Regions from separate parts of the Homo sapiens genome. Here all the other regions are reported to be linked to region 1. The links are microRNA targets in miRTarBase. Many come from high-throughput screens and were not tested one by one. Region 1 holds a microRNA gene; each other region holds the end of a gene's coding sequence. Distances are between the middles of the regions.
Evidence for each region. Region 1 holds the annotated microRNA hsa-miR-6808-5p (CAGGCAGGGAGGUGGGACCAUG, at 1,069-1,090, shown strand). A microRNA usually pairs through its seed, bases 2 to 8, with sites in the 3' UTR of a target mRNA and lowers its output. Matches are read on the target gene's strand: a 7mer-m8 pairs with bases 2 to 8, a 7mer-A1 pairs with bases 2 to 7 and ends in A, and an 8mer does both.

Region 2: miRTarBase lists PRAG1 as a target of hsa-miR-6808-5p. Seed matches in the 3' UTR shown: 8mer at 645-652.
Region 3: miRTarBase lists ERCC6L2 as a target of hsa-miR-6808-5p. Seed matches in the 3' UTR shown: 7mer-m8 at 2,592-2,598 and 7mer-m8 at 2,729-2,735.
Region 4: the mRNA of VTI1B is a reported target of hsa-miR-6808-5p. Seed matches in the 3' UTR shown: 7mer-m8 at 2,817-2,823, 7mer-m8 at 1,510-1,516 and 7mer-A1 at 1,496-1,502.
Region 5: the mRNA of IFFO2 is a reported target of hsa-miR-6808-5p. Seed matches in the 3' UTR shown: 7mer-m8 at 2,926-2,932, 7mer-m8 at 2,956-2,962, 7mer-m8 at 2,960-2,966, 7mer-m8 at 2,964-2,970, 7mer-m8 at 2,968-2,974 and 7mer-m8 at 2,972-2,978.
Region 6: miRTarBase lists LETM1 as a target of hsa-miR-6808-5p. Seed matches in the 3' UTR shown: 7mer-m8 at 2,569-2,575.
Region 7: the mRNA of ARHGAP35 is a reported target of hsa-miR-6808-5p. Seed matches in the 3' UTR shown: 7mer-m8 at 641-647.

The regions. Positions count from the first base shown.
Region 1 is chr1:1,336,697-1,340,771 of GRCh38, reverse strand. MIR6808 (microRNA 6808) reads left to right here and starts at 1,064; the gene lies at 1,064-1,122. It overlaps DVL1 (dishevelled segment polarity protein 1), which reads left to right. Exons shown (of 15, transcript NM_001330311.2): 6 at 269-362; 7 at 456-525; 8 at 595-734; 9 at 960-1,036; 10 at 1,123-1,190; 11 at 1,333-1,485; 12 at 2,119-2,250; 13 at 2,336-2,503; 14 at 2,589-2,795. RefSeq lists a silencer at 2,769-2,828.
Region 2 is chr8:8,314,703-8,318,763 of GRCh38, reverse strand. It overlaps PRAG1 (PEAK1 related, kinase-activating pseudokinase 1), which reads left to right. Exons shown (of 6, transcript NM_001080826.3): 6 at 1-1,028. The coding sequence ends at 610. Among named protein-coding and RNA genes, the nearest start is that of PRAG1, 70 kb to the left of the region's middle.
Region 3 is chr9:96,012,704-96,016,771 of GRCh38, forward strand. ERCC6L2 (ERCC excision repair 6 like 2) reads left to right here. Exons shown (of 19, transcript NM_020207.7): 19 at 1-4,068. The coding sequence ends at 500. Among named protein-coding and RNA genes, the nearest start is that of LINC00092, 7.1 kb to the right of the region's middle.
Region 4 is chr14:67,647,515-67,651,586 of GRCh38, forward strand. It overlaps VTI1B (vesicle transport through interaction with t-SNAREs 1B), which reads right to left. Exons shown (of 6, transcript NM_006370.3): 6 at 1-3,967. The coding sequence ends at 3,871. ARG2 (arginase 2) reads left to right here. Exons shown (of 8, transcript NM_001172.4): 7 at 533-669; 8 at 3,201-4,072. The coding sequence ends at 3,406. It also overlaps a transcript of GPHN not described here. Among named protein-coding and RNA genes, the nearest start is that of VTI1B, 25 kb to the right of the region's middle.
Region 5 is chr1:18,905,034-18,909,033 of GRCh38, reverse strand. IFFO2 (intermediate filament family orphan 2) reads left to right here. Exons shown (of 9, transcript NM_001136265.2): 9 at 368-4,000. The coding sequence ends at 473. Among named protein-coding and RNA genes, the nearest start is that of ALDH4A1, 4.5 kb to the right of the region's middle.
Region 6 is chr4:1,810,609-1,814,675 of GRCh38, reverse strand. LETM1 (leucine zipper and EF-hand containing transmembrane protein 1) reads left to right here. Exons shown (of 14, transcript NM_012318.3): 14 at 103-3,197. The coding sequence ends at 252. Among named protein-coding and RNA genes, the nearest start is that of FGFR3, 19 kb to the right of the region's middle.
Region 7 is chr19:47,000,235-47,004,309 of GRCh38, reverse strand. It overlaps ARHGAP35 (Rho GTPase activating protein 35), which reads right to left. Exons shown (of 7, transcript NM_004491.5): 7 at 1-3,979. The coding sequence ends at 3,622. Among named protein-coding and RNA genes, the nearest start is that of NPAS1, 18 kb to the left of the region's middle. RefSeq lists enhancers at 357-1,103, 1,104-1,849.

The DNA.
Region 1 (4,075 bases):
ATGTGTGTGCAGGTGTGCATGTGTGCAGGTGTGTCAGTAGTGGATCTGGCTACATGTGTCTGTGCCCAGTTTGCCTGTCTCTGGGATTTTCGTGTGTGCTCATATGCATATCACGTGTGCAGGGCCTGGGGCGTGGACGTCAGGCACTGAGCCTGCTTTGGAACAAGCCTGGCCTAGACCCCCGATTCCCACTCAGTATTGGGGGAGCGGGTTCCCACCCCCCTACCCATGTCTCCAGCTCCTCTGAGCTCTGACAGTCTGTTCCCAGGCTCAGCAGCTCCACGGAGCAGAGCACCTCATCCAGACTCATCCGGAAGCACAAACGCCGGCGGAGGAAGCAGCGCCTTCGGCAGGCGGACCGGGTAGGCAGCCGGGTGGAGCAGGGCGGGGCTGGGGAGGCGAAGTCAGTGTCGGGCAGCCCCGTGCCTTTTACACACGCCCCCTCTCCTCCATAGGCCTCCTCCTTCAGCAGCATAACCGACTCCACCATGTCCCTCAACATCGTCACTGTCACGCTCAACATGGGTGAGGCCTCGGGGCGAGGGTTGGGGGCAGGGGCAGGGGCTTGGCCGCGGCTCATGGCTCTTCCTGCAGAAAGACATCACTTTCTGGGCATCAGCATCGTGGGGCAGAGCAACGACCGTGGAGACGGCGGCATCTACATTGGCTCCATCATGAAGGGCGGGGCTGTGGCCGCTGACGGCCGCATCGAGCCCGGCGACATGTTGCTGCAGGTGTGTCTGTGGGGGCTGCGGGGTGACATGTAGCTGCGGGTGGGTCCGTGGGGACTTTGGGGTGACGTGCGGCTGCGGGTGGGTCTGTAGGGGCTGCTGGGGGACATGCGGCTGCGGGTGGGTCTGCGGGGGCTGCTGGGGGACATGCGGCTGTGGGTGGGTCTGCGGGGGCGGTGGACTGAGCTGCACATCCTGCCTGCACCACCCTAATCCCCACCCCTGCAGGTGAATGACGTGAACTTTGAGAACATGAGCAATGACGATGCCGTGCGGGTGCTGCGGGAGATCGTTTCCCAGACGGGGTGAGGGCTGGGGGCGCTGGAGCGGGAGGGGCCAGGCAGGGAGGTGGGACCATGGGGGCCTTGCTGTGTGACCACCGTTCCTGCAGGCCCATCAGCCTCACTGTGGCCAAGTGCTGGGACCCAACGCCCCGAAGCTACTTCACCGTCCCACGGGGTGAGTGGCCCTCGGGGCACACGGGGCGGGATGGGGAGGGGGCGCCTACCTAGCCTGAAGGCCTCTCTCCTCTGTGCCCTGCACCCTGCCCTCCCACCCTGTCCATCTGTCCGCCTGTCATCGCCACGTGGCGGCCACCCAGCTGACCCGGTGCGGCCCATCGACCCCGCCGCCTGGCTGTCCCACACGGCGGCACTGACAGGAGCCCTGCCCCGCTACGGTACGAGTCCCTGCTCCAGCGCCGTCACGCGCACCAGCTCCTCCTCACTAACCAGCTCCGTGCCTGGTGCTCCACGTAAGTGGCAGCTCCTGAGGGCCCCAGCAGAAACCGAGGCTTGGAGGGGGCGTCTCTGCCAGCCTCCAGCATGGCCGCCTGTGGCCGTCATGGGGCTGTGACACGTGTGTGTTGCCTGTCCCCAACTCCCTGCACAGACGTGTGCACAGGCACCCGTGCCCACCTTGTGCAGCCCATCCTGCTCATGGTCTGTGTGTTGGGAACAGGGGATGTACGTAGGGCCCCTATGCGGGGAGCACCCACGGCGTCAGAGGCAGGGGCCAGGTCTCCATTCTGCTTCCTGCCATTAACACGACTAACAGCCTGCGCTCTCGGGTGGGGCATGCGGGGAGGGGAAGGGGCCTGCCCTGTTCTCATTACTTCCTGGTCTGCAGGGTGGGGTGTCAGCCCAGTTTGTGCCTAGGATCCTGATGAAAAGTGTCTGTAGAAGTGGGAGACTAAATGTCCAACCCCCCTGCTCACGCCCCAGCCTCACGGGGGTGCATCCTGCAGTGGGCCGGGGCCCTGCTGTCACGCACCGTCCAGCTTGCGCCCTGGCGCAGGCTCTGCCCAGAGGCTCCCCTGGGGGTGCAGGGCCCTGAGTCCCCCGCCTTCAGATGCTGGGGCTGAAGCGGGGCTGTCTGTGCTTTGCAGAGCTGGAAGAGGCGCCGCTGACGGTGAAGAGTGACATGAGCGCCGTCGTCCGGGTCATGCAGCTGCCAGACTCGGGACTGGAGATCCGCGACCGCATGTGGCTCAAGATCACCATCGCCAATGCCGTCATCGGTGAGTGGCCGTCCCCGCGGGCGGATAGTGCCAGGGGCAGGGCTGCTTGCCTCGAGGCTGCGGGCTGACCGCTGGTGCCGGCCAGGGGCGGACGTGGTGGACTGGCTGTACACACACGTGGAGGGCTTCAAGGAGCGGCGGGAGGCCCGGAAGTACGCCAGCAGCTTGCTGAAGCACGGCTTCCTGCGGCACACGGTCAACAAGATCACCTTCTCCGAGCAGTGCTACTACGTCTTCGGGGATCTCTGCAGCAGTGAGTGGGGGCTTCGGGCTTCAGGGCGGGGGGGAGGGGAACGCCGGAGGCCCCTCCGCGGCCCTCACCTACCCTCCCCCGCCAGATCTCGCCACCCTGAACCTCAACAGTGGCTCCAGTGGGACTTCGGATCAGGACACGCTGGCCCCGCTGCCCCACCCGGCTGCCCCCTGGCCTCTGGGTCAGGGCTACCCCTACCAGTACCCGGGACCCCCACCCTGCTTCCCGCCTGCCTACCAGGACCCGGGCTTTAGCTATGGCAGCGGCAGCACCGGGAGTCAGCAGAGTGAAGGTGAGAACGCCGCCCCTACCTGCCCTTCCCCGGCTCCGCCCCCAGCTCCGCCCCACTCCACTGCTGCTCCGCCCCCAGTTCCACCCCACCCCGCTGCTGCTCCACCCCCAGCTCCACCCCACCCCGCTGCTGCTCCGCCCTGCTTCTCTGCTGACCCCAATCCCATGCTCCTGCTGTGTACTTGGGCCCTGGGTGGGCTCCTTCTGGAAAAGGCAAGTGCCAGGGGGATCCAGGAGCCAGTGTGAATGGGGAGGACAGGGAAGCGTCTCACACAGGGGCAGCCTGGACCCCACCTCATCTGGGTGGGATTGGGATGAGGGGCCTCCAGGAGCCTGGCGGCCTGGGCGGCTGTGCCTGGTAGGGGTGGCGGCTGGTGGTTCTCCTATGGTAGAGGCAGGAGGCCCTGAGACCATGTGGCCATGGGCCATGTGACAAGGACAGGGCAGGGGTGGCCAAGGAGTCTGACAGGGTCACTTTCTAGGCCCCAGGACACAGGAGGGTGGCAGCTGCAGCCCGGGTAGGGAGCCTGACGTGGATGGTGCCGTGCATCCTAGCCTTGTGCCCCTGGCTGGGGTGTGTTTAGGGGCCGGGGATCCAGAGTGTTCCTGAGGTGTTGCCTGGTGGAGCAGAGGCCCCAGTGGGTGGGGTTGGTGAGGCCAGCAGGGGCGTCTGCAGGCCAGGGAGGGGTGCAGGTGGCTTCGTGGAGGGCCCAGGAAGGAGGGCGAGAGAGGAGAGGCGGCCAGAGGGTGTGGGACCGCAGAGAAGCCACGCTGGGTGTCTACTGACCCTCGACCGGCGCTTGCGCCCACTTCAGCCCCGCCCAGCCCGCGGTCAGTCCCCACTGGTGGCGGGTGGGTGCTGGGCAGGTGCCAGGCAGCCGGGCGTGTAACTCGTGCTATCCCTTGTCTTGTGCTAAACAAGCCTTAGACTGAAGGACTAGCGGAGCGGACCTTGGGCCGGTAAGCCAGGGTCCCGCCCGGGGTCCCTCAGCATGTCCCCAGCCAGCCACGCCCTCCAGCTCCCACTGCGTCTTGGGAGCCCAGGACAGGGCTGAGCTGAGTCATCCGTCGGCCAGGGTCCTGGGCCGGGGGGACAGTGGGGCCTTGGGTGGGGAATCCAGGATGGCCACGGGGGCACCGGGCATGAGGGGCCCTCGCTGGCACCTCAGTCTTTCAGCCGCAAGACCAGGCCCTCAGCTCAAGCATCGGGGTGAGGTGTGGGGGCGCCCAGCTTGCCCCAGGACCCTGCCTGCCTCCCACTGCCCCCACCAGCCCATGCCT
Region 2 (4,061 bases), not on the chromosome of region 1:
CCGGGAGAAGCAGCTGCCCCGGCTCATCATCAGCAACTTTTTGAAGGCCAAGCAGAAGCCGGGCGGCACCCCAAACCTGCAGCAGAAGAAGAGCCAGGCCCGGCTGGCCCCCGAGATCGTGTCTGCTTCCCAGTACCGCAAGTTCGATGAGTTCCAGACAGGCATCCTCATCTACGAGCTGCTGCACCAACCCAACCCGTTCGAGGTGCGCGCCCAGCTGCGGGAGAGAGACTACCGGCAGGAGGACCTGCCGCCGCTGCCCGCGCTGTCCCTCTACTCACCCGGCCTGCAGCAGCTGGCACATCTGCTACTGGAGGCCGACCCCATCAAGCGTATCCGCATCGGCGAGGCCAAGCGCGTGCTGCAGTGCCTGCTGTGGGGGCCTCGGCGCGAGCTGGTGCAGCAGCCGGGCACCTCGGAGGAGGCGCTGTGCGGCACGCTGCACAACTGGATCGACATGAAGCGGGCCCTGATGATGATGAAGTTTGCGGAGAAGGCGGTGGATCGCAGGCGGGGCGTGGAGCTGGAGGACTGGCTTTGCTGCCAGTACCTGGCGTCTGCGGAGCCCGGGGCCCTCTTACAGTCGCTGAAGCTCCTGCAGCTTCTGTGAGCCAAGCCCCAGCCTGCACCGTCGCTGCCCCTTCCCTGCCTAACCCTTTCCTGTCTCGCCTTGGAAGCACCCATGTCTCCCTGGGAAATGGTACAGATGACTGGGATACCTGGATGTAAAATATATAAATATATATATAGAAAATACATATACCATATATAAATATGAAAGACTAAGGATGCTGTTGCCCGTCCACACTCGTCTCCTCTCTGCACTAAGTCCTCCCTGTTTTCTTCTGTAATTATACACATTTCCAGTTCCATGCAACGTCCTGAGGACAGTTCTGTGAACTGAATGCAGCCTGGACACTGGCCTCAATACCTTGTTTAGGATTTCTTCACCCTTTTGTCAAATTGTTATTTAAAGAAAAAAAAAAAAGAAGAAAATTCCATTAAAATTTTTTTTGGTTGAGTCATGAGCAAAGCTCTTTATCCTTAAGTGCCTGAGTGTATTAATATGTTTGGTGGGTAAAACGGAGCTGTCTTTGGTCTTAACGCTTTTCAGGAGATAGAGCAGCAGTCTGCAAAGGACCAGGCAAGTGGGTACCAATTCATCTTCCCTGTTTCTCTTCCCACCTGGCAGCCTTCTGGAAAGAATCCAGACACAGCCGCTGTGATCCCAGTGGTTTGGAATTCAAACCCATTTCCAGTTTGCTAAAGCTGGTTGCCATTTGTAAAATTCAGAGACGTGCCTGAAAACAGAGTCCACCCCAGATGGCTCAGATGAAAAGAACTTAAGGGGACCACTTAGCTAGGTGTGATCAGGGTTATGAGAACAAAGGGTGACAAGGCCAAAAGCAAGGGCCAGAACAGCAGGACAGGGGAACATACAGGAGGTATTCGCGCTGAGATCTCTACAGCCGGAGATGGGAGTCTCTGTTTCCCATCTGTCATCTCCAACCTAATAGGATGCCAGACAGCAAGGGACCTTGGGTGATGCAGTCTGGAGGATCAGCCTCCTGGGGCAGGGAGGAGGGAGAGAATGCATGGGACGCCAGGTGGCAAACGGCCCACTGTTCCTACCGTACTAGATACTGGCAGGGCAAGCATAGAATTCAGGTGTTTCAACTCCCAGGCCAGTACTCCCTCTGCTGTTCGGGCCTCCTTCAAGTCTCCTTTTCTAAAACCTCATTTAACGCACCCATTGGCACCTACAGCTTACTGGAGTCAATGTTTGTTACTATGCCTTTAAAAACACACAAGGAAAATTAGGAGGCATCAGATCTTTCCTCCTCAAAACTAGACACAGGCACGAAAGTCAAAAATTACCTATTTGAAGAGAAATAGCCCCAAGACTCTTGTATTTCTACCTAATGGGTAATCTTCCAACTACAGAACTAATTGATTTCTAAAACCTTGTGAATAACTCTGGACAAATTAAAACAAATACAAAGATCTGAATGGATGTTTTAGAAACCTGGGGATGCACTTAGCAGGAAGGATAGGGAACTCTCCCAGGTCCTCTTCTGCATATTAATTTCAATCCTTTTGTGAGTTCCACCTTCCAGCCCCTGACTACATGTAAACACATTCATCTTTCCATGCATCGTTGGTGAAGACAGCACCTGGGGCGCATTTGTAATTTCAATTGTTTCCTGAGCATTGAGGAAAGAACTGAACCAAAACCAGCTCCCAACCCGTTTGTACAAGAGAAGGAGTCTGCAAACGTGGAAATCATATTTCTCCCCAGGACCTATCTGTTTCGGGGGGGCATTATTTGCCAGTTCTTTCTTTGTCCCTCGGAATTTTCCAGGCAAACCTTCTGCCATCAATTTGCTGTCTTTTGCTTTTTTGTCCTTTTTCACTTCAAGTAAATAAACAATGGAGAGGGAGGAGCAAATATTCTGACAGGGGAATGCAGTGCCATTAGAAAATAAGGCCCAGCGTGGTGGCTCATGCCTGTAATCCCAGCAATTTGGGAGGCCAAGACATGTCAATCACCTAAGGTCAGGAGCTTGAGACCAGCCTGGCCAACATGGAGAAACCCTGTCTCTACTAAAAATACAAAAATTAGGTGGGTGTGCATGCCTGTAATCCCAGCTACTCAGGAGGCTGAAGCAGGAGAATCACTTGAACCCAGGAGGTGGAGGTTACGGTGAGCCAAGATCATACCACTGCATTCCAGCTTGGGTAACAAGAGTGAGACTCTATCAAAAAAAAGAAGAAAGAGAAGAAAAGAAAAGAAAGAAAAAGAAAGAAATAAAGGAAAAAAGAGAAAGAAAGAGAAAAAAAGAAAGGGAAAGAAAGAAAGAAGGAGAGAGAAAGAAAGAAAGAAAGAAATGTCTTAGGAGCCACATTTTTAATTCCTGAATTAATTGCAACTTTTTTATACCACCCACTTCAGAAAAAAAAAATGAGGTTGTAAAAACTGTTCTAAGAACCAACATGAACCAAAAAATAAAGGATAAAGAAGAAACAATAGCAATAAATTCTGAATGAGAGGAATAAGAGCAATTAAACATAAAACTTACTTCTGAGCTGTCCACCAACCTATAAAAAGAAAACTGGTTGCAGAATTCTTTTTTGTGTGCAATTTTAGGAAACAGTTCGTCAGAAGGAAGAAATTTTTGCCCAGTGCTTGGTTCTGAAGGAAATTTGTCAAGGATTCTTTGTTTGAAGACATTGAATAATGCCCCAATAGCAGTTTTAAAAAGAAAAAAAAAAAAAAAGAATTTTTTGAACATAGGTGTCATGAGCGATGCCAGGTTAAAAATAACCAGGTCCACACATGCTTGTGTCTTTCCAGAATGTCAGGCTTTTATTGATGCTAATTCAGTCACAAAAGCCAGAGGCTACATGGAGTTCCCAAGGAAGCAATTCTCTTTAGTACCTCCTGTTCTCTTGGTAGTCAGAGCCGCAGGCACACAGGCTTGAGCCACTCCACAAGTCAGTCAATATGGGAAACCATACATAATAGTATGCTTAATCAATATACATATATTACAGATTAAACATTCCACAATAAACAAAGTAGCATTGAACATGAAGAGGAGAAAGAGATAGGAGAAAGGTTAAGGAACCAGTCCAGTGGGAGCAGGTCAGTCTTGCAAGGAAAAGTGTTTGAGGTGGCAGAAGCAGATGCCAAGTTCTTATCATGAGTGACTGCAAGACAGTATCAGTTAAGACAGCCCCATTTCGAGCTGCTGAAGGCCTGACATTTTAAAGTCACAGAGGCCTCTGGTGAGAACTGATCTTGGACGAGTGTCCTTGTTTGTGTCTTTATCTGATTGGATGCAATCTTTATCTTTTTTATTTATTAAACAAAACATCTTATCCTTGTTGGCAAAGTGCCCTCTGAAACATAAAATGAAGTCTTATTCTAAGATGGAGTTTGTTATATCAAGGGTACTCTATACAATAGGGCATTTTTTTATCGCTACCATTGGTGAAGTTTAAATATGGAGTGTTAAAATCTAGTTTCCTCAAGTTCTCTGGAAATGCTTGCCTACTCA
Region 3 (4,068 bases), not on the chromosome of region 1:
TGAACAGTGAGTCTGAAACACGTGAGAGAAGGTTAGAAAATACCATGAAAGACCAACAGGACCTCACAAGAACGGGCATTTCAAGAAAAGAACCCCTTCTCAAATTGGAAAACAAAAAGATAGAAAATCCAGTGCTGGAAAATACTTCTGTGATAAGCTTACTTGGTGATACCTCTATTCTTGATGACCTTTTTAAAAGTCATGGGAACAGTCCCACACAACTGCCAAAGAAAGTTCTTTCAGGGCCCATGGAAAAAGCAAAACAGAGACCAAAAGATTTCTGGGACATCTTGAATGAGCAGAATGATGAGAGTCTTAGTAAACTCACAGACTTGGCAGTAATAGAGACTCTGTGTGAAAAAGCACCTCTAGCAGCACCCTTTAAAAGGAGAGAAGAGCCAGCAACTTCTCTTTGGAAATCAAATGAGAAATTTTTATGGAAGAAATTTAGCCCAAGTGATACAGATGAAAACGCAACCAATACACAGAGTACCACATAAGCATATAAATGAATTACTGCACCAGTAAACTGCTGCCATCACTGTTTACGGCACTGGATTCCACACTGATTCTATTATCTTGAACACAGTTGTTGACATATATTTTTATTAAATTATTGCTTTAGGATTTTTTGAAGTCTAAAGTATTGTCATGGATCTGTTTTTCTTGATATTTGATTTGATCTTTCAAGAATATGATTGTATTTATAGTATAAACCTCTGTTATGAATTAGAAAAGATTCTAGGTTTGTTAATAGGAGACCTGGGACATCTTTCTTACTATATTACATAATGATGTGACACTTGCCCCGGTGAGCATTGTTTCCCAGTATGAAAGATGAAGAGTCTGTACCGAATCAGCATGAGTGTCCTTCCAGTTTAAAAAAGCTTTGCTTCGCTCTCCTAATGGCTCATAGGCTGAATCATGTCTGCCCCTCAAATCAGGTGTATACCAATGTGTTTTTTACTAGCACTTGGGAAAGTTATTAAGTATTTTCTTTTTCCCTGGGCATCATGTTCTATTATTATTTTAGAAAAAAGTCATAATTGGTACTGAATATATGGTATATATAATATTAAAATGGTAATTTTGCAACAGCTCAAAATTAAAAGGTTAATGTTATACACTTTACTATATGAGCTGTGATTACTACCATTAGCCACAGATACCAGTGCCTCAACTTTTTATGTACCTATTGTGATTTAATGTAAATAAAGGTTTGTATAGTACTTTTGTAGTTCTTAAGTATGAAGAAATGGGTAAACTTTTTATTTTGTTAGAAACTGTTATATTTTGAGTGTAATATTTATGGTTTATAGCAAAATGAATGTGCTTATTGTTGAATGCATGTATTTAGAAGCCTTTACTCAGCCCCTGTGTTCTGTGCTAGGAGCTTGAGCTCTACAGGTAAGGCAGAGCTACCGGTGAATGAAAGGAAATCATGTCAGTGAAAAATCATGGTGGAAAGCCCCTGGCATCACATGTGCATGCTGTAGGCAGGACCTGAGCTGCCTCCGCTGCAGGTTCAGATGCACCGCTGCAGCTGTCCTTCAGTTAGTTCACAGGGCTGCAAGAGGAGGACACATCCCTCCAGAAAACAGCCTGAGCCGGGAACTGGCTGTGCTAAAGAGCACTGCTATCAAGTTGAGGAGAGAGGGCTTCCGTGTACTCAGGATGTAGAGTCATTGCTCAGAAGTGAACAAAAAATCAAAAACAAAAGTCTTCTCAAGGGACTGATCGGCCAAGTATGCTTTTCTTTAGAGCAATGTTTTGCCCTAGAGAATTGTAAAATTTATGTCATGACTCAGTACATATGTGTTCGTACATATATGATTGGAATAAAATGTTTATGAAATATTTACTCATAAGCCATGTAACATACTTTGACATTTTTCTCTTCTAGGATTGTGTTTGGTAGGGCAGTGGGTTTGTGTGTGTGTTAATCCTCTCACAACCCACTGAATTGAATTTCATGGCCCATGGTTAAGATCCACAGTGTGAAAACGCTGTTTTAAATTATATGAGTTCGTCATTTGTTTGCTCTGTGCAGCTGAGTTGTGTCCAGACTTACCAGATGGTATGTTTTGCCATTGAGGGGCCTTCTACACAATGAGTGCATGATATGGTCCTTGATAGACTTGACTTGTAGATGTTTTCAGCCTACAATGTGATCAGCTATCTGAGGAACTCCAGTAAGTAGATACCACTTCATTTCAGTTTATATACAAGACAATGTAGTTCAAACATTTTAATACCTTGTAAATTATGATATTCATATAAATATTAGCTCTATAGTCTTCATATATGTACAGTTTTTTTTTTTTTTTTTTTTTTTTTGAGATTGAGTCTCACTCTGTCACCCAGGCTGGAGTACAGTGGCATGATCTTGGCTCACTGCAACCTCCACCTCCCTCCCAAACAACTCTTATGCCTCAGCCTCCTGAGTAGCTAGGATTACAGGTGTGTACCACCACACTCAGCTAAACATTTTTTTTTTTTTTTGAGACGGAGTCTCACTCTGTCGCCAGGCTGGAGTGCAGTGGCTCGATCTTGGCTCACTGCAGCCTCCGCCCCCCGAGTCAAGCAATTCTCCTGCCTCAGCCTCCCGAGTAGCTGGGACTACAGGTGCGTGCCACCACGCCCAGCTAATTTTTTTGTGTTTTTAGTAGGGATGGGGTTTCACCATGTTGGCCAGGCTGGTCTCAATCTCCTGGCTGCAAGCGATCCACCTGCCTTGTCCTCCCAAAGTGCTGGGATTACAGGTGTGAGCCACCATGCCCAGCCAATAAATGCTATTAAAGAAACTTTTAGGCCGGGCACAGTGGCTCACGCCTGTAATCCCAGCACTTTGGGAGGCCGAGGCAGGCGGATCACAAGGTCATGAGATCGAGACTATCCTGGCTAACGCGGTGAAACCCCGTCTCTACTAAAAAAAAAAAAAATACAAAAATTAGCCAGGCGTGGTGGTGGGCGCCTGTAGTCCCAGCTACTCGGGAGGCTGAGGCAGGAGAATGGCGTGAACCTGGGAGGCAGAGCTTGCAGTGAGCCAGGATTGTGCCCCTGCACCCCAGCCTGGGTGACAGAGCAAGACTCCATCTCAAAAAAGGAAACTTTTATCAATAGTAGTCAAAATGGGAGCAAAAATGCAGAACTGGAGTTTAAAAATTAGTTTCCAACAGTTGTCAGTGAAATATTTATCACTATTATGTAGGAAAGTGTGTCAGGTGGAATGCAGAGTCCAGTATGAAAAGGAGCCTGTTTCAGAACGGAAACTGTCAGGTGGAGTGGACTCCCTGCAATGGAGTGATGGAAAGATTTGGTACAACCATTGATGACCTGAGAACAGACACTAGGAAGGTTTGACAAGATCCTTCCTACCCCCACTCCACTGGTGATGTGTCACCAAGTTCTGCTAACTAAATGGGTGGCCTCAAGCAAATCCCTTACCTCCTTTTAGCCTTAGTTTCCCCTTTAAATTGGTGATGGATTAGATCAGTGGTGGTCAGCCATTTTCTTAAAGCAACTGAACTGTATCTTAATCAGAAACTTAACTAGTAAAACAATTAAAATGCAAGTCTGTTGCTTCAAGCAACACCACTGTGGCTCCATGGAGCACTAATTTGAAAACCACAGAGATGAGATCATTTCTAAGAAAACCTTTCAACTTTGTTTCCATGATGCTACTTGCCACAATCTTTTTTACTTAAGCAATGATACCGTTTCTGGCTGAACACTCACCACACAGCTATTAATATTGGAAACTGAGGCAAGATACCAAGAGATTTTTGCACTTGAATTCCTCAGGGTTCTCTTACAGCCCTGAAAACACCTCTTCAAGGAAATAAATAACATCTGCAAATGGTGCAGCTGCCCCTAAGTATTCAAGGCAAAGAAGCCTTAGTTTGCAGAGATGATGATAAACTTTTCATCCTTCCACAGAAAATGAGAAAGCCACAGGAAATACACGGTTATTTTCTAATTAAAGTTCAATGTGTACGCTTTTAAATTCTGAAGTTATCCTTCTTTTATGATATCAAAATAGCCCTCTTTTTTGAAATGATGGTAGAT
Region 4 (4,072 bases), not on the chromosome of region 1:
GTTGTTAGCTTCAGCCTTTGGACACTGGGGCTATAATGAAGTTAGAAATGGAAGATGTTAAAACTGCAGACCTAAAATTAGAGTTCACTTCAGCTGCTGTTACGTTCAGAGAATAAGAGCAACCATAACTTACATCAAGCCAATTTAAATTAGACTAATTTAAATTGTCTAATTAAATTGTCTCTAGATGAGAGCCCAATCTCATCTAGAAGTGAAGAAATCTCTCTATTGACAGTTATTAGTATAAGAGGTTCTAATACCCAGTGTAAGGCAGAAATATACATTGGAGTTAGTCTGTCTGAGGTATGCAGAACAAATGGCAGTATCATGAAGTGGTATGTAGGAAGTTAATATTGCCAATCTCAGTAACTTCCAAGAATAGGAAGCCTGGAAATGTATTAACAGCTTTATTAACAAAGTACTAGGACTAATAGCAACAAAATCAAGGAGTTGCAACCATAAGAAGGATGAGTGTCCAAGGACAACCAGTTAAGTATTATTTTAAGTATTATTTTATCCTCTTCCTTTTTAGGAGACAAAGACCAATCCATTTGAGTTTTGATATTGATGCATTTGACCCTACACTGGCTCCAGCCACAGGAACTCCTGTTGTCGGGGGACTAACCTATCGAGAAGGCATGTATATTGCTGAGGAAATACACAATACAGGTATGTAGCAACCAGGTCTGCAGCCTGTTAACTACATAGGTAAATATGCTAGAGTCTCTTGCCTGCAAAGGATCTTTTCTGCTATTCCACATCATTGCAGAGTTTGTTTTTGCTTAAACTTTTGTAGCTAAAAATTATATGGCCATGCTAATAAAAAGGATATAGTCCTTTAGAGTCATGCTTGGACATGGCTCTTACCAAATTACACTAAGGTAATAATGAGTAAAAAATTGTATATTTAAACAATTAAATACAAGAATAAATTGTCAAACTGATGCAGTTCTTTGAGTTATCTAAAGGCAGATTAAGATAAGAAGGCAAGATAAGATAAGAGTGCAAGGCTGTAATTTGCACTCTAAGAGATTGGTTCATTGGGAGTTGTGAATTTGGAGCTAAAGCTGATCTCTTGAAGAAATCTGCAAACTGGACAATATCTTGGGTCCTTTATGTAGGGTAGGTCTTGTACTAGAGCCTGAAAGGATTTCTAATAAGGGGGATACAGTTAGATGAGAATGGCTGATGGAAAGAGTACTAAGATGAATTCTACGTTATCAAGACTGGCTACTTTTCCAAAACTCATACTTGTTTGCAAACAGTTTCCATTTCTGTCAGAAAGCTTCTGGTTTTAAAGCTACTTCAAATGACCTTTCATTCCAAAATTTAAAGAACTACCAAATCATACTGCTTCAGTAACCATCTGATGGAACTAGGGTATAGATAGAGACCCCAGATTGAAAGGTTCAGGGCTATAGAGAACCCTTGACTAGCTGGGATAGAAACTCACATTGAGAAATGGTCTCCTTAGCGCCACAGCCTGCCAGAACCTTAGGCAGTACAAAAAGGCAGGCAGTACTGGTCTAATTCTCAGATCTGCAATCTTAGATGTTGCCAGTGGTCCTTAGGTTATTGGCCAGAGAACTTGGGGGTTCAATTCTCTGCTTTGCTTCCTAAAAACACCACTTAGAGCAGGGGTTAATAACCTCTAGCACTTATATATGGCATGGCTTGTCTCTTTGTTCCTATGCTACAATATTTTACTCCAAAAGACACTCATGGGGCTAGGCACAGTGGTTCATACCTATAATCCCAGTACTCTGGGAGGCCAAGGCAAGAGGATTACTTGACCCCAGGGGTTCAAGACCAGCGTGGGCAACATAGTGTGACCCCGTTTCTACAAAAAATAATTAGCCAGGTGTCCCAACTACTTGGGAGGTTGAGGCTGCAGTGAGCCATGATTGTGCCACTGCACTGTTATAATGCTGTCAACTAGATACATAAAGCAGTTTGCTTAATTTATAGGGTGGCAATAGTCTGGAAACATAAGTCATGTATATATTTCTAATAGTGCAAACTTTGATGACCACTTCTGGGATATGCTAAAGGTGCAGGTTTAGTCAGTGGAAATCAGAGACAAATCAGGAACACAGGTCCATGTGCAGGAAATGATGGAAATGCTACAGTAATACACCTGTTGGTTGCAGTTTGGCACTGTACACTCAACTATGCATTGCTAATAAGGGAAGATGCTGAACGGACATGATGGCATTCAGCACATCATGTACTATAGTGTAATATCAATAAACCATTAGGTACATTTGCCTGTGTTTCCAGACTTTATGGCCACCCTAAATATTCTTAGATACTTGTATTCCTGAATACTAGCTTGTTCAGATCACCCTTCATCCAGAATAACCAACTAAAAAGTTAAATTCTATAGAGAAGTGAGGCATTTAGAGGGGTGAGCATAGTAGCAGGTCTGGATAGGTTCTTCTGGTTTAAGCTTCCCTTCCACTTGCTCCAGGCCAAAGGAACACTACCGAGAACTTTGACACAAGTTCTCAAACCTTAACAGAAGGTAACTGAAGTCCAGATAAAATAATTAACATATGGCTGAATTTTCTCTTGATCAAGTACAAGACACTGGGTCAGTCTGCTGGGAGACAAAAAGATGTTGTTAGATGTGGAACCTGCCTCCAGAGCTCAGGCCTGCAGGGGTGAGAATGAAGTTTGCAGTAATAACTACATTTCAGGGCATATGGTGTGGTGCTCTAACAGATACAGATAACACATTAGAGTTCAAAAGTGGGAATGCAGTTTGGCTAGTGCAAGTGGCAGATTTCCTCTGCCTTCATACTTGATTCATTTCCAGGCAGGCATCTGGAAGGTTCCTAGTCATACTGGAGGTGGCATACATTTTGCCAACAAGCAGGATGAAAACCTCCCCCACCCAACACCAAGCCTTTTCCTTTTCCAGAACGCCTGACAATTATGCCTGTTATGTTAGTTGAACAGGGATGGTTTATTTCATTATCTTAAAAGGTTTCTTTTAATCTACTATAGCACAACAGTGTTTTAACTTAAATTCATGGCCAAGAGGATGAGGTGCAAGGGGCTTCCTAAAAATAGGTATTTTCTACTATAAAATGGACTCTTGTTTTTACTTTGGCTTGTTCTCCCTGTCCCAGTGGGATGACCCTCACTGAGAGTAGCAGCAAGGGAACCTGAGGTTTTGTCACACTTTGTTCTTCCAGGGTTGCTATCAGCACTGGATCTTGTTGAAGTCAATCCTCAGTTGGCCACCTCAGAGGAAGAGGCGAAGACTACAGCTAACCTGGCAGTAGATGTGATTGCTTCAAGCTTTGGTCAGACAAGAGAAGGAGGGCATATTGTCTATGACCAACTTCCTACTCCCAGTTCACCAGATGAATCAGAAAATCAAGCACGTGTGAGAATTTAGGAGACACTGTGCACTGACATGTTTCACAACAGGCATTCCAGAATTATGAGGCATTGAGGGGATAGATGAATACTAAATGGTTGTCTGGGTCAATACTGCCTTAATGAGAACATTTACACATTCTCACAATTGTAAAGTTTCCCCTCTATTTTGGTGACCAATACTACTGTAAATGTATTTGGTTTTTTGCAGTTCACAGGGTATTAATATGCTACAGTACTATGTAAATTTAAAGAAGTCATAAACAGCATTTATTACCTTGGTATATCATACTGGTCTTGTTGCTGTTGTTCCTTCACATTTAAGTGGTTTTTCATCTTTCCTCCCTCCTCCCACAGCCTGGCTATACAGTGCATCCTTGAACTGTCAGCCCACAGCAGCAATATGCTTATTCTATCCACATCCCTAACATCATGCATTCACAAGGTCAAAGTTCTGGTCCACAAACCCTTCCCTATAGAAGTTCAATGGCTGCGAAAGAATTTGTAGTAAACCAGGCCTCCCAGGATGGCGAGCTCCAGTAAGATGATAATGGAAAGCAGCAGCTTGTTGGTTGTCACTCTACAAAGAGAAGCAAAGTGGGGAGTAGTCAGAAGTTTGGATAACCTTCCTTCTAAACATTTTGGGGTTAGACCTGGGACCACGGCTGGATACTCTGAGGCTGTA
Region 5 (4,000 bases), 18 Mb from region 1:
GATGTTAACCATATCCCGCATGGCCTCCTTTTGAGCTCTGAGTCATTCAGGTTTTACTTAGCACCTACTATATGCCCAGACATGGGTTAGGTGCTTGGAGAGTAACAGCCAAACTTGATCCACGGTCCAGCTCCCAAGGGGCTTTCTTCCTAGAGAAGCCAACACAGCCAGACCAAGTAGGGGCTGGTGCAGGGGGTTACCTCGTGAGCTTAAAGGATCTTAAGGATAGCTGAGTGAGGCAGGAGCTCAGGACCAGGCCCCTCTGAGAGTAGATCTTATAGAAGTGGCAGCTCAGCCTTCCCACTCCTTGACCCTTCAGAGGCCCAGGGCTGCTCTCTGAATTTCCCCACTCTCTTGTGCTTCTCAGGAATTCACCGTCCCCCAGCTCCGTGGCCAGCAGCGACTCAGGAAGTACAGATGAGATCCAGGATGAGTTCGAGCGCGAGGCGGATGTGGAGCCCATGGTCAGCTGATGACTGAGGCCCTGCGAGCCTGGTGGTCTTGGTGATGGGGCCCTGCCACCTCTCCTCATGGGGCCAGGAAGGCCCCTCGGAGTGGGGTTCGAAGCCACACCACACAGACTTTCTCTGCCCTCCCTTCTCTGGAGGCCCTGAGGGACTGCTGCTTCCTTCCTTCCTTCCACACCACCAACGGGTGCCCCGTCTCCATCCCCCACCCACCCAAGGAATGGTGCTGTCAATTTCTATTGTTCTCCACATTACAAATGCAGACTTCTGTGCGGACTTTGCAGTGTTAACTGTGCCTTCTCCCTTAAGCTGAGCCACTTTGAGCTCCAAAGAATTATTCCTAGCAGGTGTTTTTATACAGAACTCTAAGCTGAGGGCCGGGCCAACCGGCCGTGGTGTAATGTGGTTTCTGCCGTCCGTCCCACCTGCTCCTCTGATTGGCCATGGGCTATGCCCTCCCTTCCTCCTGAGCCAGCCCAGACTCGGCCTGGAGCTTGGGGTGCTCTGCCAACCCCCAGGAAGGAGCCGCTTGCCTCTGTGAGCTTTCTAGGCCTGGGTAGGGACCACCCCAATTTTCTCACTCCCTGAAGGAGAGAAAGGTGGAAGGAAGGGAAGGAGGACACATTTTAATTTTTTGGGGGGATCGAGTGGCAAAGTTGAAGGGACAAGGCACTGTGAGGGGAAGGCAGAGCCTCACTGTGTTTAAACTACTATGCAAAAAACAAAACAAACAACAAAAGCAGCTTGCCTTATATCATTGTGGAAGGCAGGACCTCTCCTGGGCTCCTGGCTTCCCCCTGGAGCTGGGAGAGAGGCCGGGGTTAGGGTGATCTGTGTGGCAGCACTGACTGGGTAGTGTGGGTTTGGCCGAGGTTGGTCATGAGGCTGGGGTTCCCGCAAGGCACTGGCCTCCCTGACCGCTTGCTTCCTTCCGGACCTCTGGGTTCAGGGCGGGGGCGGAGGGATCCTTGATTTCCCTGATAACTTGATGTTCTTCCCTCCCTCGCCAGCCAACAATAGAGGCTTAGAGATCTGTAATTTCTCTGTGAGAAAGTCTGAAGGGGCCAGGCCTGGTCTCTGCTCCCTTCTACCCGCCTTGGGTTAGGACTGTCCGGCAGTTGCCTGCTTTTGGCTGCTGGCAGGAGAGAAGCAGGGTGGGCTGCTGGCAGTGCAGGAGCTGGAGTGAGGGCCATCCTCTTTCTGCTCCTCGACACACGCAAGCCGCTCTCAGCAGTTCCCTCGACTGGCCAGTCGGGGTATTGATCTGAGCCAGCATCCCCCAAGACTTGAATGGCTTGAGTGGGACTGCGTTGAAGGGCACTGTGTGGCCCCCTTCCAAATCTCAGCTTGGAGCCAGCTGAGCAGGCTTTGCTTTATTATTATTTTTTAAGCCTACTGCAGTGGGTCTGTTGCCAATTTTAATTTTTTATTGTCCCAGGAGCTCCCTCTAGTGGTCAAGGTAGCAAAATGTGCCCAAGGACTAGAACTTGGGTCCCTCTGCCTTGCCTGGAGGCAGAAGGAGGGGGCTCTGGGTTTGACTGGGATTGTGGTCCCCAGGGGTCCGTGGCCTTTAAGGCTCTTCTCTCTTTTCTGTTTCCCCCACCTGTGTTACAGTCTTAAAAATACTGTACATAAAAGATATATGTAGAGAGAGAGAGAGAGCGTGAGAATGTGTTAGTGACTATGTGTGATGTAATTTATCACGATTTGGTGGCCTTCGTCATGAGTTTTTTCCTTTGTTTTCTTTTGCTGGGGGCACCTCCCACGGGTCCCCTGTGGCAGTCTGGCTGTGACACTTCCATAGTCAGCATCTCTTGTTAGCCAAACAGTTCCCTTTGACAGGTACTTGGAGGGACAATGGTTTTGGAAGAGAGACGGCCCTTCTCTCTCCTCACTCACCCTTGTTCTAAAGGTTACAGGGTTCAAACATACCTGATTCTTGTTGTTATTGTTGTTGAATTTTTATTTTAACCAAAGGTTATCAGAGCCAGTTGGGCTTGGACCTCAGCTGCTAAAAAGATTTTCCGTTTCCTCGAGGGCAGGAAAACATCCACCCTCGTGGGTCTCCTCCGTCCAGGGCCGAGGGAGGCATTGGACAATGTGGTATGGGAGTTTCGTGGGCAGCGTGGAAGCCGGCCCTGGGTTGTTCCCCAAGGTGGTGGGAGGGTGACAGATATATCTTTAGACTTAAGACTGTAAGGCAGCAGTGTTAGCATGGGAGTAACTAAGGTTACTGTGGTTATCGGTGTCCGGCGGTATTATTTTTACTTTCCTCCTTGTATACATAGGTCATTTGTCTTTGAGGACTAGGGTACTCTAGGGAGTTTGAAAACTGCAGGAGCCAGAAAGAGATCCTGGCCTGAGAGTCCCTTCTGGCTGGCTTTTAATATCTGCTCTCCTCTTGGGAGTGAGGACTTGGGGCAGGTGGGTAGGAGAGGGAAAGCCAGAGTGTGATGGGCCTGCCTCCTGGGCTGGTTCCTGGGTCCGGCCTGCCTGCCTGCCTGCCTGCCTCTCCACCACATGCTTTTTTCAGTTAATGTCAGTGGGCCCTGCTTGTCCCCTCACCATGAGCCCACAGCTTGCCAAGAAAGACCCCAACGCTCGCTGGGGCAGCACCAGTCCTAGCTGGGACGAATTGGTCCATCCTTTGTAAAGCTGTAAATACTTAATTTTGACTTTCTATTTCTAAGCCCAGTGTCATATTGACACTGGTATTTTAGAATTTTCTCAGATGGGCTCTCCTGCGCTGCCCTCTGTCTCCTGTTTTTGGGGGTTTTATACAAACAGAGGATTGGGGAGGGATAGGAAGACTAGCATCCTTTTGGCTCCCTGGTTGGTTGTGAAATACACACACACACACACACACACACACACACACTCGCACTCCTCTGAGACTCCGAACAGAGAAAAAAATTATTGGCAAATCAACACATTTTTCTTTCTCGTCTTGAGAAAATGTCTTGAGGTCCCTGAAGGGCCAAATCCATCGTGGACTAACTCTGTGGGTAGAGCTCAGATGACCTAGGGAGAATTAAACCACTTAAGCTTGGAGTGGGAGGAGAGGGGGTGGGGTGGGGGAGAATATAAGATGTAACTTAAGCTAAATGTAATCTATTTATAAAGCAAGAGACTCTCATCTATTTTTATGAAAGGAAGGGTTTTTTAATCTAGGGTAGGCAGTTGTGGTAGCCCAGCATTTTCCTGTGGACGAGACATGGTGCATGTTGTTGCTGGATTGAATGGAACCCATTCCTGTCCCCCGGCCTCGTCTTCTGTCCTCACTTTTGGTCATCCACACCCATGAGCAGCTTCAGCAGAGTGTAGGTCCCACTTCACCCCATTCTCCTCTCCTCTGACCCCTCAGCTCCTTGGAAGTCTTGGGGTGGGGATCTGAGGGGGTGGGTGGGCTGCAGGAAATTCAGAAATGTGGTGGGTGGGGGAAGGGACAAGGCGCATTAGGGAGGGAACAAGCTGGGCTCTGGGGATAGGCTCTGATTAATTAGTTACTCTGACTCTGGTCTGCCGAGATCCAT
Region 6 (4,067 bases), not on the chromosome of region 1:
GCTGCCACCCCAGCTGGGGCGACTGACGGCGCTGGCCCCGCCTCTGCCTCACTGTGCTGTAGGGCGCAGCCACCTGAGCCTCTCCCTTTCCCACGTGTGTAGGTGATTGAGCTGGTGGACAAAGAAGATGTTCACATCTCCACCAGCCAGGTGGCTGAGATTGTAGCAACACTGGAAAAAGAGGAGAAGGTGGAGGAGAAGGAGAAGGCCAAAGAGAAGGCAGAGAAGGAGGTCGCAGAGGTGAAGAGCTAGAACCACTGGCCTGGGCACCTGTCCTCCTGCTGTGCCGTCACCCTGGCAAGGGCCGTGAGGGCGATTGCTTTGTGGTGATTCTCAGTGGCTCATCTAATATTTTGGCTGGAATAAATCAGAGACTTCCATAATCAAGTAAATTTTAATTTTCATCATTCCACGGAGATTCAGTCTGTCTGGAATCCCGGAACCCCTCCACAGAATCGTGTCTGGATCCACACTGTGGTGTGGCTGCCACGGCCTCCTGGCTCCAGAGGCAGCTGGGCTGGGCCAAGGCAGGAAGGCGCCCCCATGTGTGTGGCCTCAGTCTCAGCATCTGACTGTGCTGCCCTGTCCCCAGGGAAGAGAATGAGGACCACGTGGACTCCGCCCACACAGAGCTGGCTGCTGTGCCCACCCTCAGGGGCGTCAGGAGACACAGCCTGGCCTCCTCAGGGCTGAAGATGCCTCCATTCGCCTGTGGACCTTGATTTCTAGATTTCAGTGTCAATAGACCTGTCTTCCTGCACACTTTCAGTTGGATGTGGGTCATTGTGGAGACAGAGGTGTCTGCCATCTCTGTGGCCTCTGGAGAGTGACGTCTCCCTGCTGGGAGTGCTGGTTCTCACGTGCGGTTTCCCTTGTGTATCGGAGCTCTTTCTCGGCTTTCTATTTCCCCCAGTTCTTTAAGCAGTCAATTGGCACAGAGTTTCCCACGGGGGCTGCAGTGGATTCACTGTGTCAGGGATGAGCCTGGCTTGGGGGTTGGTGGGGCTCTGAAGCGCATTTGGGGTTCTTTGTAGCTTCTAATGTGAGGTTTGAGTCCAGTGCGCCCACAGCAGCATGCCCTTCTCACCCCTTGCAGTGTTGCAGGCTCAGGCCCCTGGGCTCCTTCAGCAAGCAGGCTAGTCAATGAGGCATGAGGATCCGGCACAGGGCATCCCCTGGGGCTTCAAGGGCAATACCCCCGTGCTTAGGGTTTGCCCTGTGCCCTCTGGGTGGGGTGGCCTCCCCGCACTCGGCAGCATGGCCAGGCTGGCCAGGGCGTGGGCAGGTGGTGTCCTGTGGCACCTCCATCCTCCTGCCCAGCCGGCTGTGTCACACTCATCTTTTTAAGGTCAGGTTGGTTCCTGGCAAAAATGTACCTCCAGGGGCCTCCAAGCATAGGATTTGGAAGACAGGAACGGCACAGGCGTCCAGGAAAGCAGCTGCACTCAGACAATGCCTTCTCCATTACTTGAAGCTTCTTTCTGTTCAGCCATTAAAGAAACTTGACAAAATAGGAACAGGAGATATTTCTCAATTGTAAACCTTTGTGCAGGGACAGTTGGCTTCCAGAGGCTTTCAGCTTTCAGTTATTTGAGAAGTTTGTTTTAGATCCTTAACTAATATTTATGAATTCTCTCACCCTGTGTAAGTAGCCTGGTGTTCGTTTGTCCAAGTGTACTTACCCTTGAGAACAAGTCTTGCAGTTGCCAGGTGTGTGCAGACGCCTCTCCTGTGAGCGGCATCGCGGGCCCAGTCAGCTGCCCCGGCTCTCATCCTCGTCCTCACTGCCTTGGCTGAGCACTGTTGACGTGAACAGCCACTGCAACAGGCAGCCCATCCCACTGTCCCCTCTGCCCTGGACTCCGCATGGCCTCCAAAAGCCAGCTTGCCCTCCGGGTGCTGCAGGGGCTTTGCAGGTGGGGAAGGCTCTGGTGGGTGCCTTTGGTGGCTTCCGTGACATCAGCCGTGCTCTGATGCAGGCTTGCTCCCTCGTCATTCTCCCTCGTCATTCTCCCTCATCGTTCTGTGTGCATTTTTCTCTATGTCCTGACCTTTCTTCTTGCACCTAAAAGTGGTGTCTGGGTGCAAATGTAAGCAGTGGTGGATCCAGAAATATGAGCTTTGTGTAATAAGCTTCTTAAAACAGTCCTTTCTTACACCTGCCCAGGGCCAGACCCTCGGTCTTGGCCTTTTTCAGGAGCTAGGATATCTGCGCCTGGTGAAAATGAAACGAATTCCTGATTTAGGAATTCAGTGTTTCCTCCTCACTCCAGCTAAGCACTCACTTTTTTTTTTTTTTTTTTTTTTTTTTGATACAGAGTCTCGCTCTGTCACCCAGGCTGGAGTGCAGTGGTGCGATCTCGGCTCACTGCAAGCTCCACCTCCCGGGTTCAAGCGATTCTTCTGCCTCAGCCTCCTGAGTAATTGGGATTACAGGCATGCGCCACCATGCCCAGCTAATTTTTTTTTTTTTTTTTGAGACAGAGTCTTGCTCTGTCTCCCAGGCTGGAGTGCAATGGCGTGATCTCGGCTCACTGCCAGCTCCGCTTCCTGGGTTCACGCCATTCTCCTGCCTCAGCCTCCCGAGTAGCCAGGACTACAAGCACCCGCCACCACACCTGGCTAATTTTTTTGTATTTTTATTAGAGACAGTGTTTTACCGTGTTAGCCAGGATGGTCTCGATCTCCTGACTTCGTGATCTACTCACCTCGGCCTCCCAAAGTGCTGGGATTACGGGCAAGTTTTTATTAGAGATGGGGTTTCATCATGTTGGTCAGGCTGGTCTTCAACTCCTGACCTCAGGTGATCCACCCGCCTCAGCCTCCCAAAGTGCTGGGATTACAGGCATGAGCCACCGCGCCCGGCCTGAACTCTCAGTTCTAACGCAGGGATTCAGGAATTGGGCTTTCAGACTCCTTCTGCAGTGTCACAGTCCAGACTTTTTTTAAATGAAGGACACCCCGCAGTGGCTCACAGTGGGTCCCAGGGCTAGCAGGAGCGTGCTGGGGAGCCGGCTCTGTCTTTGTTCGCAGTGGGTCCCGGTGCTGGCAGGAGTGTGCTGGTGAGCCGGCTCTGTCTTTGTAAATCCTTCAGGGGTCCTACGGCTGACTCCACCGGACAGCCCGTCCTGGGCCGTGTTAAGCACCTTTTGTAGAAATCGTATTTTTATTAAAACATCAAATCTGTGTTCCTGTAACAGTGCAGAGTAATAATATTTCTGAACCGTTGGGCACACAGGAGCGAGTGGAAGCCGGCAGAGCTGTCCACGTGGCTGCAGGGGCTGGGCCTTGGGGCGCGTGTGGCTGTGAGGCCAGTTCCAGAAGGAGCCTCACCATCCCTGGGGGTTTGAGTGCTGGGCCGCCCTCCATGGGTTCAGCCCTTGGCTTCACGCTTCCTGCTCTGCAGGATGGGCCTGCAGGGTCAGGAGACCCACGTCCCCAGGTCCTGTGACAGCGTGAGCTGCTCATGGAACAGTGTGGGACGTTCTCCAGGCCAGTGGCCCTGCCACCTGGTCATGCTCTCCCTGCTCTGGGGACCTCAGTGACTTCTTGGGAGTCCTGGGGTTAGGGGCTGGGACCCTCGCCGAGGTGTCACCCAGGAGGGCCAGCTCTTCTGAAAGACTCCTCAGGCCGCTGAGGGGAAAGAGCACCGAGTACTGCCCTAGGGAGTCCTGGATGAGGCAGGGCCTTCAGCCTGCAGTCCAGCCCACAGGCAGGGCCCAGACGCCCTGAGGGATGTGTGATGGCCTGGGGCCATGGAGAGCAGCCCCCAGCCCGGACCTCTGGGTGCCTACCTGCCTCAGCGTGGCCTGGCTGCAGGAGTGCGTGGATGGTTCCAGCGCCAGGATAGCAGTGTGGTGTCTTGGCTCCCGACCCTTCTCAGTGGACAGAAGCCATCCCTTAGGTGCTCTGCCCACACTGGGACCAGGCCCTGTGGGCACCTCACAGGCTTCTCTGCGGCCCTGGCTGCTGGTTTGTTCACACTGAGAGTCCTCCCTCGGGGCCTCCCTTGACCCCTAGGCCCTAATTAATCAGAGGAAATGATGGACCCACAGCTGGGGTGGGAG
Region 7 (4,075 bases), not on the chromosome of region 1:
CCGCGGCCGCGCCCCCACCGGACCCGCGACAGAAACTGCCCCCTTCCTGGGCCACTTTCTGACCTGGACACAGACGATGTCCTCCGAGGGAGGGAGCCCACCCCCGTTACACCTCAGAGCCACGAAGCCGGCGCCCGCTCCCTGCCGCAGCTTCCCCGGATCCCTGCGCTGCCCTCGGGAAAGCAGCGACTCAACCAGACCCAGCCCCCCGCGCGGCAGGGGCCCTCCTGGCCACCGCACCCTACTTTTTCTAGCCGGCGCCCCCAAAGCAGTGGCTTCTCATAGGAAAGGATGGGAGGGGGGCGCAGCTGAGGTGACTCTTGATGACAAGTCACTGCAGCTGGCCTGCTGTGAAGTTTTGTGTGTGTGTGTGTGTGTGTGTGTGTGTGTGCGTGTCCAGAATGCCTGGTGGCCTGCGGGGGTCTTTACCAAGGGGATGCTGGCTTGACCCAGGCCTCCTTTCCCTAAGAGCAGCAGGAGCTGAGTGAGGCACAGGGATGCCCCCATCCCCTTCTGGCCAGCGAGCTGCTCCTATGATGTCACCCTCTGTCCACCGTGACAAAGACAGACACATCCTGCAGAAGAATCTGGGTCGCAGCAGGTGCCCTGCCTCCAGCAGGAAGCAAAACCAAGGCGGTGGAGGCAGGAGAGCACGGAGACAGACGCCCCGAAGCTCTCTCCCTGTTCCTCCCCAAACGCTAGGCGATGGGAAAGACGGGGACAATGCAGAGTAAATGTGTGCCGTGACACCCAGTATGCGACACAAGCCAAGAATTCTAAGTGGATTCACGAGCCACGCCACCCAGCCTTGGGTCTTCCCTCTTCAGCCGTCAGAGCCAGGATCAGTCTCTGGCTTTGCACCAAGGGCTGCTGTCCCCTCACACGGTGTCTGCGCTCTCGCTGGGCAGGGGTGGCTGCCCCACGTCCCCATTCTGGACAAGCCAACGCCCTCCCACCCAGTGCTGAGAGCTGCATGCGAGTCCCATGAGCACCCTCTGTGCACACACCTTCCAGAACTTAGAGCCCCAACAAAAGCGGGAGTGGGGGCAGCATGGTCCCAACAATCCCCAGGGACGCTCCTCTGTGGCTCCCATGCAAGTGCCCATTTGGGCTGCACGCTTCCCTGACCGGACGCTGAAGGCCGGCCTGCCACGACTGGCCATGCCCCTCAAACGACCGAGATGTCCTCTAGTCCCTCAGCCCGGAGCAGCAGATGAGAGGCTGAAGTTAGCGGGGGAAACAAGAGGAACCCTGTGGCTTCCTGTGCATGGGGGCTCCCTTTGGACATAAGCTGCCACAGTCCCTGCCTGCCCACCTTGGCTGACAAGGCGCTGCATTGGGAGTGCCCCAGACCTAGTTTCAGGTACTTCTGTGAGGAGAGGGGTAGAGAGCCCAGGTGCTCCTCCTCACCACCCCCTCCACACTCCTGGGGAAGTCACTGGCCGCACATACATCTGTGGAATCGGGCCAGGTGGCTTGGGACGTGGCTTTTGTGCTCACACAAAAGAGGTGGCAGTGTTAGCTCAAGCAGTGAGGGGGACTGGGCTGCTTTTGCCTGCGTTCACACAGGGACGGCCCAGGGCACCACCATGCTTTCCCTCCACCCCCAATTACGTGAGGAGCTGACCAGGTGAGCATAACCTCGAAAAGGGGGCGGGGTCAGTAAATGGGGCCGTTTCCTCATCTGCTGGGGTCCAGGGCTGGGGGAGTTTGGGAACGTTTCTGCCAACCTCAGCTAAAACGAAACACAGATGTCACCTTCCAGCCAACCCTGGGCCTACAGGGCCAGGCACAGCTCCACCAGAAGAGACAAAAATTCATCATCCAACATTCACAGAAAACACGCCTGAACCCTGGGTTTGTTCTCCGATTTGTGTTCCTCAAAAGGCGGTAAAACTTGCAAGGTTAGGTGTTTCCAAGCACCTTCGTTGGCCATTGAGAACTGGAGACAGTGAGCCAGCCGTCCCCAGAGGGAGCTCGGGAGCCGAAGGGCCACTCCCGTCTCCAACCACTGCAGGCGGGCACGGGCAGGGCAGCTGCAGACGCCCGGGAAAGGTGTCCATCAGGCCCCCTGGAATACACCACAGATCCTATTTCTTAAAGTGCAACGAGCCCCAAGGGCTGTCTGGCATGGGGCCCTCTGCACCCCACTAGCTCTCGCCTGGGGGGTGCCTAGTGTCAGGCTTCCTGGCCGCAGAGGCCACAGCCCAGCCATGCAAGTTTGAGGTGCTGGGGGGCAGAGGTGGCCAGGAGAAGAGCTTTTCCTGGGGCAGTGGGAAGGCTGGGCTAGGGTGGTGGTGGATGATATGCAGGCACAGCGCCTCTGGGTCAGCGAAGACCAGGAAGGATGCCCCTTCGAGGGCACCAGCAGACCGCCATTCCTTCAAAGTGCCCCACCTCGCCCACATCCCCATGAACACTCCTGCTGGTGGCCTCCATGGCTGGGATGAAACGATTCCACTTCAACACCCAACACACCAACCCCAACCCCAAGTGCACCTGGCACCTTCCAGCTGTCCCCAACCCCCCACCAAGCGCCCACACACACTCACACTCACATGTGCACACACACCCCCACCCCACGCACATGCTCAATTAGTGTTTCTATCGTAATGGACTGTGTTCTGGGGCAGCCCAGGTTCCAGCCTGCACTGCCATCTCCCCAGCTGTCCCCACCAAGGGCTCGAACCCTCTTCTTGGGAAAACGGGGGATCTAGCGACTAGACCTAAGTGGGTGAGTGGGACCCCAGCAGGCCCTCAGGCCACAGCTCCAGGCATCCTGGTTTTGCTGCCACAAAGACGAGGGTCAGCTCCACCTGTGTGCCTCCCTCCCTCCCGGCAGAGGCGGGCACAGAGTGGAATCTTGAGGTCTGTAGTTTTCTTTCTGTGGTTTCTTCCTTTTTAATTACTGGAAGGGTTTTTCCATTTTTTCTCCTAGTGTTCCTTTGTTTGCCAGGGAATGTTTCGGGAAGGCTGTGGAGTGGGACGGTGGGGATGAAGCGGGGAGTCCCACACTCTCTGGGTCCAGGCACAAAGCTATCCTCCGTTGTTCTGATCTGCAGAGCCAGCGCCCTCAGCAGGTACCTAGTGGTGGCAGAGCCGTGGCCTACACGTTCCCAAGGAGGCCGCCAGCCGGGCTGTACCCTTACCTTGGGGGTGTGTGCAGATGGAAGGTGGGAAGAGACAGACCAACAGGAAGTGTTCTCTTCAGGGGTTGCCAGCCCCACCCTGAATCTCAGAGCATCCTCCTCCCCGGCAAAGGCCAGGGCACTGTCCCGACCATGGGCTCTGTACAAGCAGAGGGAGGCACCCGGAGGCTGGTGTGAGCAGCTACGTGGGGTGGTGGTCCAGGGAACAGAGGGAGGGCACTGGAGCCATTGCCTGCCTAGTTCAGTCCTCAAATGGGTCCAAGCCAGCTCAGGTCTGCAGCGCCAGGCCCAGGGTACCTGGCAGCCCAGCCGATGGTACCATTGGCTGGTGCTCCCACTGAGGTCTTGAGAAGGTAATGGGGAGAGCCACTTGCCCCTGCCTCTGTCCCCAGTGGACTTGGTTTTGTTCAAGGCCAAATGCCACCCCGTCAGAGAGAGGACCGGTTCTCCTGTCGCCCCAGGTCTTGGTGGCTCACAGCGTGTGTTCGGCTTGAAGCTGGGAGGGAAGCAGTGGCTGCATTGGGGACTGGGGGGTGGGTGGAGGCGACTGTGGGGGCGACGGCTGACTTGTGACAGGCGTGGAAGTGAGGAAGGGGACGGTGGAAGCCACGGCAGAGGGGGAGCTGGGCCTGGCGCCGGGGGGCTCGGTGATGGGCCGATTGTAGAAGAAGAAGGGGCACTGCTGGATAAAGAGTTCAATGATTGTCTGGTAGGTGCGCGTGGCTGTGAGGGCGTCCATAGTGCTGAAATCAGGTCTCATCAAGGTGGGCCAGAAGCAGATGGAGAGGTTCTCGCTGGTCATGAGATTCACCTTGTTGTTGTGGCTGACCCTGCGGGCGACACCAAACTCAATGGTCAGAACTGTGCAGGGCCCCACCTGGCCCTGGGCGCTCATGGTCTTCAGCACCCAGGCTGAGCCCACCTTT